2 separate regions of the Homo sapiens genome follow, and region 1 is linked to region 2. A link means that fine-mapping ties the variant in region 2 to the expression of a gene that starts in the linked region. Tissue or cell type: whole blood. Region 2 holds a variant in brackets; the other region holds the start of a gene. All regions are shown on one strand. Distances are between the middles of the regions.

Region 1 (4,216 bases), 41 kb before region 2:
CACTTTTTTTGGCCTGTATATTGGTTATCAGATATAGTCCAAATAAATCAAGTTTATCAAATAATTGTCTTCAAATACCACTGTGCTAGTTTGTATAGCAAAGCATTTGTGTAGATGGGATCCTAAATAAGAGTGTTTCTCTTAATGTAAAACCAAATCTTATGCCACCATTAATGTTGAATTCCTGCAAAGGTAAAAATGCTTCTATCTCACAAAACTTGACCTGGGTACTATATCTGAGAGGCTCAGTGTAAATCATCTAACTCATGAAACAGAAACATGGGAAGTTAGTATACATGTTGAAAGGGCACTTTTCTAATACTGATATCCATTATGTACTCTACATCTGACACGGAGAAAAATAACTTTTCTCTACCAAGTTTTGCTGAATAGAGAGCAGGAGATGTTTAATGATGTGATGATAGTTTTAAAATTCACATAGAAAATGTAGACACTTGGTACTGTGAAAACATTAACACTTGACAAACTATTAACTTTCCTCACTTTAGAGAAGATGCTTAACATTTCTGACTCTCTCCTCCCACCTCAGCCTCACGAGTAGCTGGGACTACAGGCGTGTGATACCATGCCTAGACAATTTTTTTTAATTTTTCGTAGAGACGGGATTTCACCATGTTGCCCAGGCTGGTTTCGAACCCCTGGGCTCAAGCGATTCGCTCGCCTTCGCCTCCCAAAGTGCTGGGATTACAGGCGTCACACACCGCGCCAGGCCCTCCGTTGTTTCTTCCAGCGCTAATTTCTTTGAATTATCAATTTCACCATTTAGATGCAGAGAATCCTACTTAAAAATAAGAAGGCTAACAACTAATCACTAGAGTGTTTTAAGCTCAAACATTTAAAAAAAACCGTCGGGCCTAAAACTAGTGCAAAACAGGGACAAATTATTTTCCACTATGTCTGCTGTGTGTCCTTACTCCTTTAAAGGGGGAGGGACTGTCTGGGCAGGAGAAGGGAGTGGTTAAGGCCTGTCAAGTGAATAGAAACCCAGAGCTGGAAAACACCGGATCCTCAATTTTACAGGTAGGGGAACCATCGGCCCAGAGAGGGGGGTAACCAGCCTCGGGTCACACAGCCAGAATTAGCTGGGCGTCTTCCGAACACGCCACGCTGCCCTGGGATCACCAATTGCTTAAAGGGTCCTGACACCGCAAACTAGGGCCCCACCACTCCTCGGCCCTGTGACGCCCGACAGCGGGGAGCGGGAAGCTCCTCTCGGGAGGCCCCGGGCAGCCACAGGGAGTGGGGCCCAGCTCCAGACCTACTCGGTGGCCCGCACGAAGCTGCACGTGTCTGCCCGGCACACGTAGAAGCTCTTTCCTTTATTCGGGCCATCGCGGACGCCGGTCTTAAGAAAGCAGAAAGTCCCTGAAGAGAGAAGAAAGTGAACAACGATTACGCCACGCTAAATCAACAGGCCCCGGGACGCTGAGACCCTAGCCCCTTACCGTGCTCTGGACACCTAACTTCTTCCATTTCGCTGGGTCCCCCAAGTTCCACAAAGCCCCGCCCCCAATTCTGCTTCCGCCTTTTACTCCGCCCTCTTTGTTCAGGAACCAACCATCACTCAGCTCTTGCAGTCTTAATCCCTCCCATAATTCTCCGCCCTTGGCCTTCACCCGTCCTAGCCGCTATCAGCCAATCATATAGGAACTTCGCTCACCTCCAACCAATCACAGCTGCCCTCAGGTATGGCGCGCGCCGAAATCAAATACGGAGCCAGGGGGCGTAAAGGACCCGGCTTTTGCAGGCTGGGGCGTGGCTGAGGCTGGGGAGAAGCTTAGAAGGTGGCGGGGCTTCTGGAGGAAAAGAAGCTTCGATTTGCAGGTCTTGGAAGACGGAAGGGCAACTCTTGTTTACGTTTAAAACCGAGAGGCGGCCCTAGGGGTAGCGCCAGTTAGCAGGCGCTGAAAGGCCCTGGCTTCGTGGGTGTCTCTGAGCCAGGCTGGCGCTCGTGCGCGCTGGGCTCCGCGCTCAGTCGCTGGGGTGGGAGGCCAGGGGAAGCCGCCGCTGCAGGCCGAGCCGCGAGATTTGCAGTGCAGGAGCCGAAGCGGCGGGCATGGTGGGAGGTCCTTGGAAGCTGCTGCGGGGAACTGAAACGGCTCTGATAGGCAGGCACAAAGACTTCTCTAGGACCCCCTACAATGCTTTACGTTTGCCTCGTGCTTTAGATTTCACAAAGTGCTTACACATAACACGACCCTCCTCACTCGACCTGGTGAGATGGGTAGCATTTTGTGGAAGATTCCGAGACTCAAGTTTGAGAGACTCACCCAAGGTCAGAGTTGGCGAGTGGGCGGTCCGTGGACAGGTGCGCAGGTCTCAGCGCCATTTGGCCCGCGCTGCTGCTTCCTGTGTGTACTGGATGTTCTCTAGGCTCGCCCAGCGTGGAAGCCCCGAGTTACCAGCCGCAACGTGGAAACCACAGAAGGGGAAATAGATGACTTTTGGTGAAGGCGAATTTTACTTTATCATTTTGTATTGTCAAACTTTTTTTTACTATTATGCTTTTGTAATTTTAAAAATCGAAGACGAGGTTAAATAGAAGAAAGGGGACAGTTCCCTTCTATTTAACTTCATCCTCGATTTTTAAAATTTGAAGTTGTAATCAAAACTATTAGTAAACAGAGAGGAATAGATATTAGATTTATTGCAATAGAAATAGTTTCATATTGCAGCTATTGAGGACCATATGTCCCAGACATATGGTGTGGCACCTGCACTGTTCTTATGGGGGCCGTAGAACAGAAAATCTGTAATGTCTAGGAAATCTGGGCGATGTGATAAATGTACATGTTATGGGGATCCGGAGGAAGGGAGACAAACCTGAGGTATCATTTATTAATTAAACAGTACTTACTAAATAGCTTTTTTGTGCCCGTTGTGGACTAGGTGCTTGAGAAATGTAAAATTCATTCATTCACACACACAAAGTTTGAAACAACTATTCTAAGCACAAGGAACTTACTCAGTATTTTGAGGAGACTGAACTAGTACATGTTGAACACTTAAATAACAATATAAAATAGTATTTAAATGTCAAAATGAATGGAGTTAGCAGTAACTCTCTAGGACTAGAGAAAAATGGAATTTCCAAAGTGAAGTTCCTTTATACATAACTACCCTTCCGAAACTTAGATGAACTTAGAGATAAGACAGGAACAACAAATAGGTAGAAGCATTTTCATTATTCCAAGATTGTTATTCTTGCAAATGATGTATTTGTACATGTTTAATAGATGCTGTATTGGAGGTAGTATACCATGAATACAGGATTTGCAGAAAGAGGGGCATGGTAATTAATTATTTCTTGAATAATTTTCGAAACAAGGCAAAATCGGGGCCTCTTAAATATCCCGTTAAGGAAGAAGCTCCTCCTCTGCAAGTACCCAAGTCGGTATCTCCAGTCCAACCTCACAAAAGTGTGCACAGCCAAATCACAGACAGGAGGAATATTTCTTCCATAAATTAAAAATATACTAGATCAAAATGTTAAGTCCCTGGACAACTTATTCCACCTCATCATATTTACAAGATTGAAAAAAATAAGTTTGAGATTGGACGAAAGATGGTCATAACTGGAAACATTTTTAAAATTAATTTTTATGCCCGTTGAGTATGGTGGTGGGCACCTGCGGTCCTAGCTACTCAGGAGGCTGAGGTGGGAGGATGGCTTGAGCCCACAAGTTTGAGGCTACAGTGAGCTGTGATTGTGCCACTGCACTCTAGCCTTGGTGACAGAGTGAAACTTTGTCTCTTAAAAAAAAACTTATGCCTATTGAAATAAATAATAATGAATTATACAACATACACTTTTCAAAATATACACATGTATTGGTGTATGTGTATTAATTTTTATTCTTAATTTATATTTTAAATTTATATTGTTAATTAGCCTACAGACCCCCGGAGAGACCTTGGGAGAATGTGCTTTATGGATCTCTATTTTGAGTAAAGTTTAGAGTTTGTTTTTCCTTAAAGCTTGATTTATTCAAAATAATGTCTAGGCTGGGTCCTAGATTTAGATGGCTTAAAATGCACAGGTTAATTATCCAATAAATTTGTTCAGTATGGAGCTGGTCAAATGCAAAGTATATGTTGGAATTGTTCTAAAACTGGATTGTGGTAATGGGTGCACAATTGATTAAATTTACTAGACTCTTTGAATTGTACACTTTAAATAGGTGAATTCTATGAC
Region 2 (4,216 bases):
TGGTGTGGCAGAGGGAGTGTCACACAGACAAGCCCAGTATCTCTCTTCCACATGATACTGCTTCGGTATTTAAGCACAAGCATCTCTTCTGTCATATTTCATGTATCAGATTGGGAGAAAGTGGCCCTATTAATGCTGTGTTTGTGTGTTTACTATGCAGAGTACTTCTGGATTCACAATTTCCAAACTCTAGTTGTATCTGCCTTCAAACGTGGGTAAACAAAAGGAAGTTGTACATGAGTGATTAAAACTGTGTGTGTCTTTGCAGTCACTTAACTGTGGGAACATTGTATAGATATGGAGCCAACTAATCTTTGACCCCAGCAGCTTTTCTGCTTTGTCAGAAAGATGAGTGACAATCCTTGTTCCCAAATCTTCTTCTAGCATCTTGCTGACATCACCCACTCTACTTTTTTAACTGCTTATTGATGTTGCCCATAGGTCCCTTTACTCTTCCTTCAACAAATATTTATGAAGCACACACTATATTATGTGCCAGACAATTCCAGGCCCTGTGGATATCTTCCCTCAGTGGCTCACACTCTAGAGGGAGACAAGTGCAGGGACAGAGGCTTAGAGATGGTGCCAAGTGCCATTTGTAGACAAAGAGCCATTCTACCACAGCACAGTGATATTTGCCCTGATCACTGTCTTCCACATTTAGAATGTGCAGCTGAAATAACTCTTGAGAAACCTTTCTCAAGTGTGAGATTTTTGGTTGTTTTGTTTTGTTTGAGATGGAGTCTTGCTCTGTCGCCCAGGCTGGAGTGCAGTGGCATGATCTTGGCTCACTGCAACCTCCACTTCCTGTGCTCAAGCGATCCTTGTGCCTCAGCCTCCTGAGTAGCTGGGACTACAGGTGCACGCCACCATGCCTGGCTAATCTGTGCATTTTCAGTAGAGACGGGGTTTCACTATGTTGGCCAGGCTGGTCTCAAACTCCTGACTTCAGGTGATCTGCCCGCCTTGGCCTCCCAAAGTGTGGGATTACAGGTGTGAGCCACCACACCTGGCCTCAGTGTAAAATTTTTGTTCCTCATGTCCCTCATGTAAGACAGAGGTATATAGAAGTGCCTATCTGAGCACACAGCAGGGTCTCCTAGCCCAAATACAGGAGTGAGGGGAGACTTCCTGGAGGAGATAATTCTGAGCTGAGTCTTAAGGGTTTATAGGAATTATTCCGATGGAGAAGAGGTTAAGGATTGCCACACAAAAGATGCAACTAGATCAAAGACTTTGAGAGTGAGAGGGAACATGGACAATTGAGGAGCTGCCAGTAATTCAGTGTGGCTGAAGCTCAAATTCACGATGGAAAGTTGAAGGAGATGATGCTGGAAAGACACAAATGTACCAGATGATAAAGGACCTTGCATGTCACACTGTGGGAGTTTAGATACAAGGTGAACATAAGAGTTGTGATGACTCAGGTTTTCAACTTGGGTCACTGGTGAGGAGTGGGGACATAAGGGGCAATGCAGAAGAAAGAGCTTTGGATGATAATGGTGGGTTTATGTTTTGACATAATGAGTGCAGGCATGTCTTGGAGACAGCTGGATATACGAGTCTGGAGATCAGAAGAGAAATTGGTCAAGATAATGAATGTGGGAGTTGTGAACATACAGCTTGTATCCATGGGTAGGGACGAGTCCACTGCAGGAGAGCGTATAGAATGAAAAGAGAACAAAGCTAAGAATAGAATCCAGAGAAACTGTTTTCTTTAAAGAATAAATCAGTGGAGGAGAAAATGAAAATCTTGTGTCATGGTGCCAAGGAAAAAAGAAGTTTCAAGAAGACAGATTGGGGCAGCAATTGCAAATACCACAGAGAGGACAAATTAATTAAGCATGAATTCATGAACAAGGGGATCATTACTATTACCAAAAATGTTGCACAGCAGCAGAGAGAATAATGACAGTGACCACGTTTGAGCGTCATCTTGGTGTGTCAGGTACTCGGCATGTTATATATGTCACCATATTTAAATTGCACATTAACAATTTACAGATCAGGTAACTAAGGCTTCAGCAGATTAAGTGTCTCATCCAAAGCTGTTCTGCTATCCAGTGACTGTCAGATCTAAATGACTCCAACGTCTCTCCATCACT[C/A]TTCCTAAGAGAATGCAAACTATAAGAGAGAAGATACATGACACAGCAGAACTTTGCCTAGGTAGTATCTCACTTTTAACTCCTATGCTCTATTATCAGTTGATGAGATGGATTATATTTGATTGTAATAATAAATTCTCTGACTCTTATACATTAACACCTTACAAAGAAGTAGGTGGATGTATTCCAGTGGAATTTACCTTATCCCTACCACTAGCAGAGACACTGCAAATGTTTACTAACTGGTAAGGCCTGGACAGTGACTAATCCAAAACATTTCTTCTCCCCTCTAGCCAGGTCCTAGAGGCCCCCTGCTGTGCCACGTGGTACCCTTTAGTTGCTGGGTGGTGGGAACTTAGGGGAAAATGGGGAATGGGTAGAGAGCAGCAATTAGCCAGCATGGAAGGTATTTCAATGTTTTAACAACCAGTATGGCCAACCCATGCATACTAACTCAATGTTAACCTGGGTATCATTCATCATGTGGTGCTTACTTAGATAGAACAAATATGGGAGAAAGTATTTTATGTTTTATTGTTATAACTTACCCAAAATGGGAGGATTGCTATTTGTTTGTTTTTAAAACAGGGATTAATTTCAAGTCACACTTACCTGGTAAAGTGACGGCTATCCTCAGTGGGTGAGAGATGGCAGAAGCCCTCGGGGGGCGGTTGTTGTATAGGGAATTTCTGTCATAAACTTCTACTTCACACTGATACACTCCTGTCTCTTCCTCAGTGGCATCATGGACTAGGAGTTGTGAACGAAATAAAGACTGCGACACTTTCGTCTTCTTTTGGAACCGGGATAGGAAATTCCCCCATTCAATAGTGCCATTGTGGGTGATTCGAATAAGCTGGTGGAAGATGTGAGAGCTAGCTGGCTGGAACTGCCACGTCACAGTGAGTGGCACCTTGAGGTCAGAGTAACCGGCCCTCACGACACAGGACAGGTCAAAGGTGTTGGTTAACATCACTTGCGGCTGACGGCTCATCAGACTAACTTGTAAACTTGACTCTAGACAGAAAAATGAAACAGAATTTCTAATATATTTACCAGATTAAAATATAGCACTTTCAAGTTTTTCTAGTTGCCACCTCTTTGACTAGGACCATGCATTTGTACATTTGGAGTTTCCTATTTTATAGAGTAGAAATTGATTCCCAGTACAGTCTGTCCTGAACTGTGACCTCAATTTTGCAAAGTTGATCCTTTTCTAAGACTGTTCCCAGCAGCCACAACAAATAGGCAGTGTTTCTCCAATCTGCTACTTAGACAGCTGCTGCTGAGTGGGTGGAGCACTCCCCACCCTAGTCGTCTGGCCTCCTTCCCTTACCCCCATGCGTGGGTTCAGTATCAGAACCCTTTTGCACATGCTTCAATGGGCTCTGCAATCCCAGGGCCACAGCTGTCAAAAGCCAGAAGGTAAGAGGCTCAGCTATACTCGTCTATAAGCTGATCCATAGGATTTTGTTTTTAACCTTGAACAACAATTTACAAGTTGCACTCTAAAGATGATCTTTACAAAAATGAAGAATCTTTAAAGATTAATTGACAGAGAGGGTAGCCAGAGACTAGCTCTGTGTCCTAGGGTACACATACCATCACTGGGGGATTCAGGATAACACGCAATCCAGTTCCACTGCAGAATGAATTGAGTGATATACAGGTGCAGAAAAGGACTTCCTTTGACACTTACCCAGAGACTTTACAGTAACTGAAATCTTCTGAGTCCAGCTCAGATCTCTGGCCTGGTTCCGAGACTTCTCAGATACTCTGCACTCATATGTGCCACTGTCTGTGATGGCAGTGAAGGTGATCTCCAGCTGGAAGGTGGCCCAGTCCATTTTCTCCAGCCTTGTGTTGCCATGGTAACTGGGTACCCCATAGGAGGCACCCAGCTGCACAATGCCATCCTGCCCCATGCCAGCCACAAACTCGGGCTGTGTCTGGTCCCGTGGGATGTGCCACCAGCTCACAGACAGGGGACTTTCAGCTCCACCAGCCTTACAGAGAAAGGCGAGTGTCTCTCCTTCCCACACAACTTGCTGCTTGTTCTTGGTAGACATGACCACACTTCTTGCTGTGAGTTACAGATTATAGAAGAACAA

What was found. PIP is the estimated chance that this variant, and not a neighbour inherited with it, causes the effect.
Region 1: CD101-AS1 starts here. The variant in region 2 is fine-mapped to the expression of CD101-AS1 in whole blood (INTERVAL, PIP 0.95).

The regions. Positions count from the first base shown.
Region 1 is chr1:117,057,625-117,061,840 of GRCh38, reverse strand. CD101-AS1 (CD101 antisense RNA 1) reads left to right here and starts at 2,351. Exons shown (of 4, transcript NR_110786.1): 1 at 2,351-2,468. TTF2 (transcription termination factor 2) reads right to left here and starts at 1,515. Exons shown (of 23, transcript NM_003594.4): 1 at 1,467-1,515; 2 at 1,284-1,386. The coding sequence starts at 1,494. RefSeq lists an enhancer at 1,815-1,974 and a silencer at 2,395-2,444.
Region 2 is chr1:117,017,062-117,021,277 of GRCh38, reverse strand. It overlaps CD101 (CD101 molecule), which reads right to left. Exons shown (of 10, transcript NM_001256106.3): 5 at 3,805-4,188; 6 at 2,718-3,122. LOC124904386 (a long non-coding RNA gene) reads left to right here. Exons shown (of 2, transcript XR_007066499.1): 1 at 1-2,166; 2 at 2,844-3,185. Among named protein-coding and RNA genes, the nearest start is that of CD101, 17 kb to the right of the region's middle. RefSeq lists an enhancer at 2,447-3,646. The variant C/A (reference allele first, on the strand shown) is at 2,106.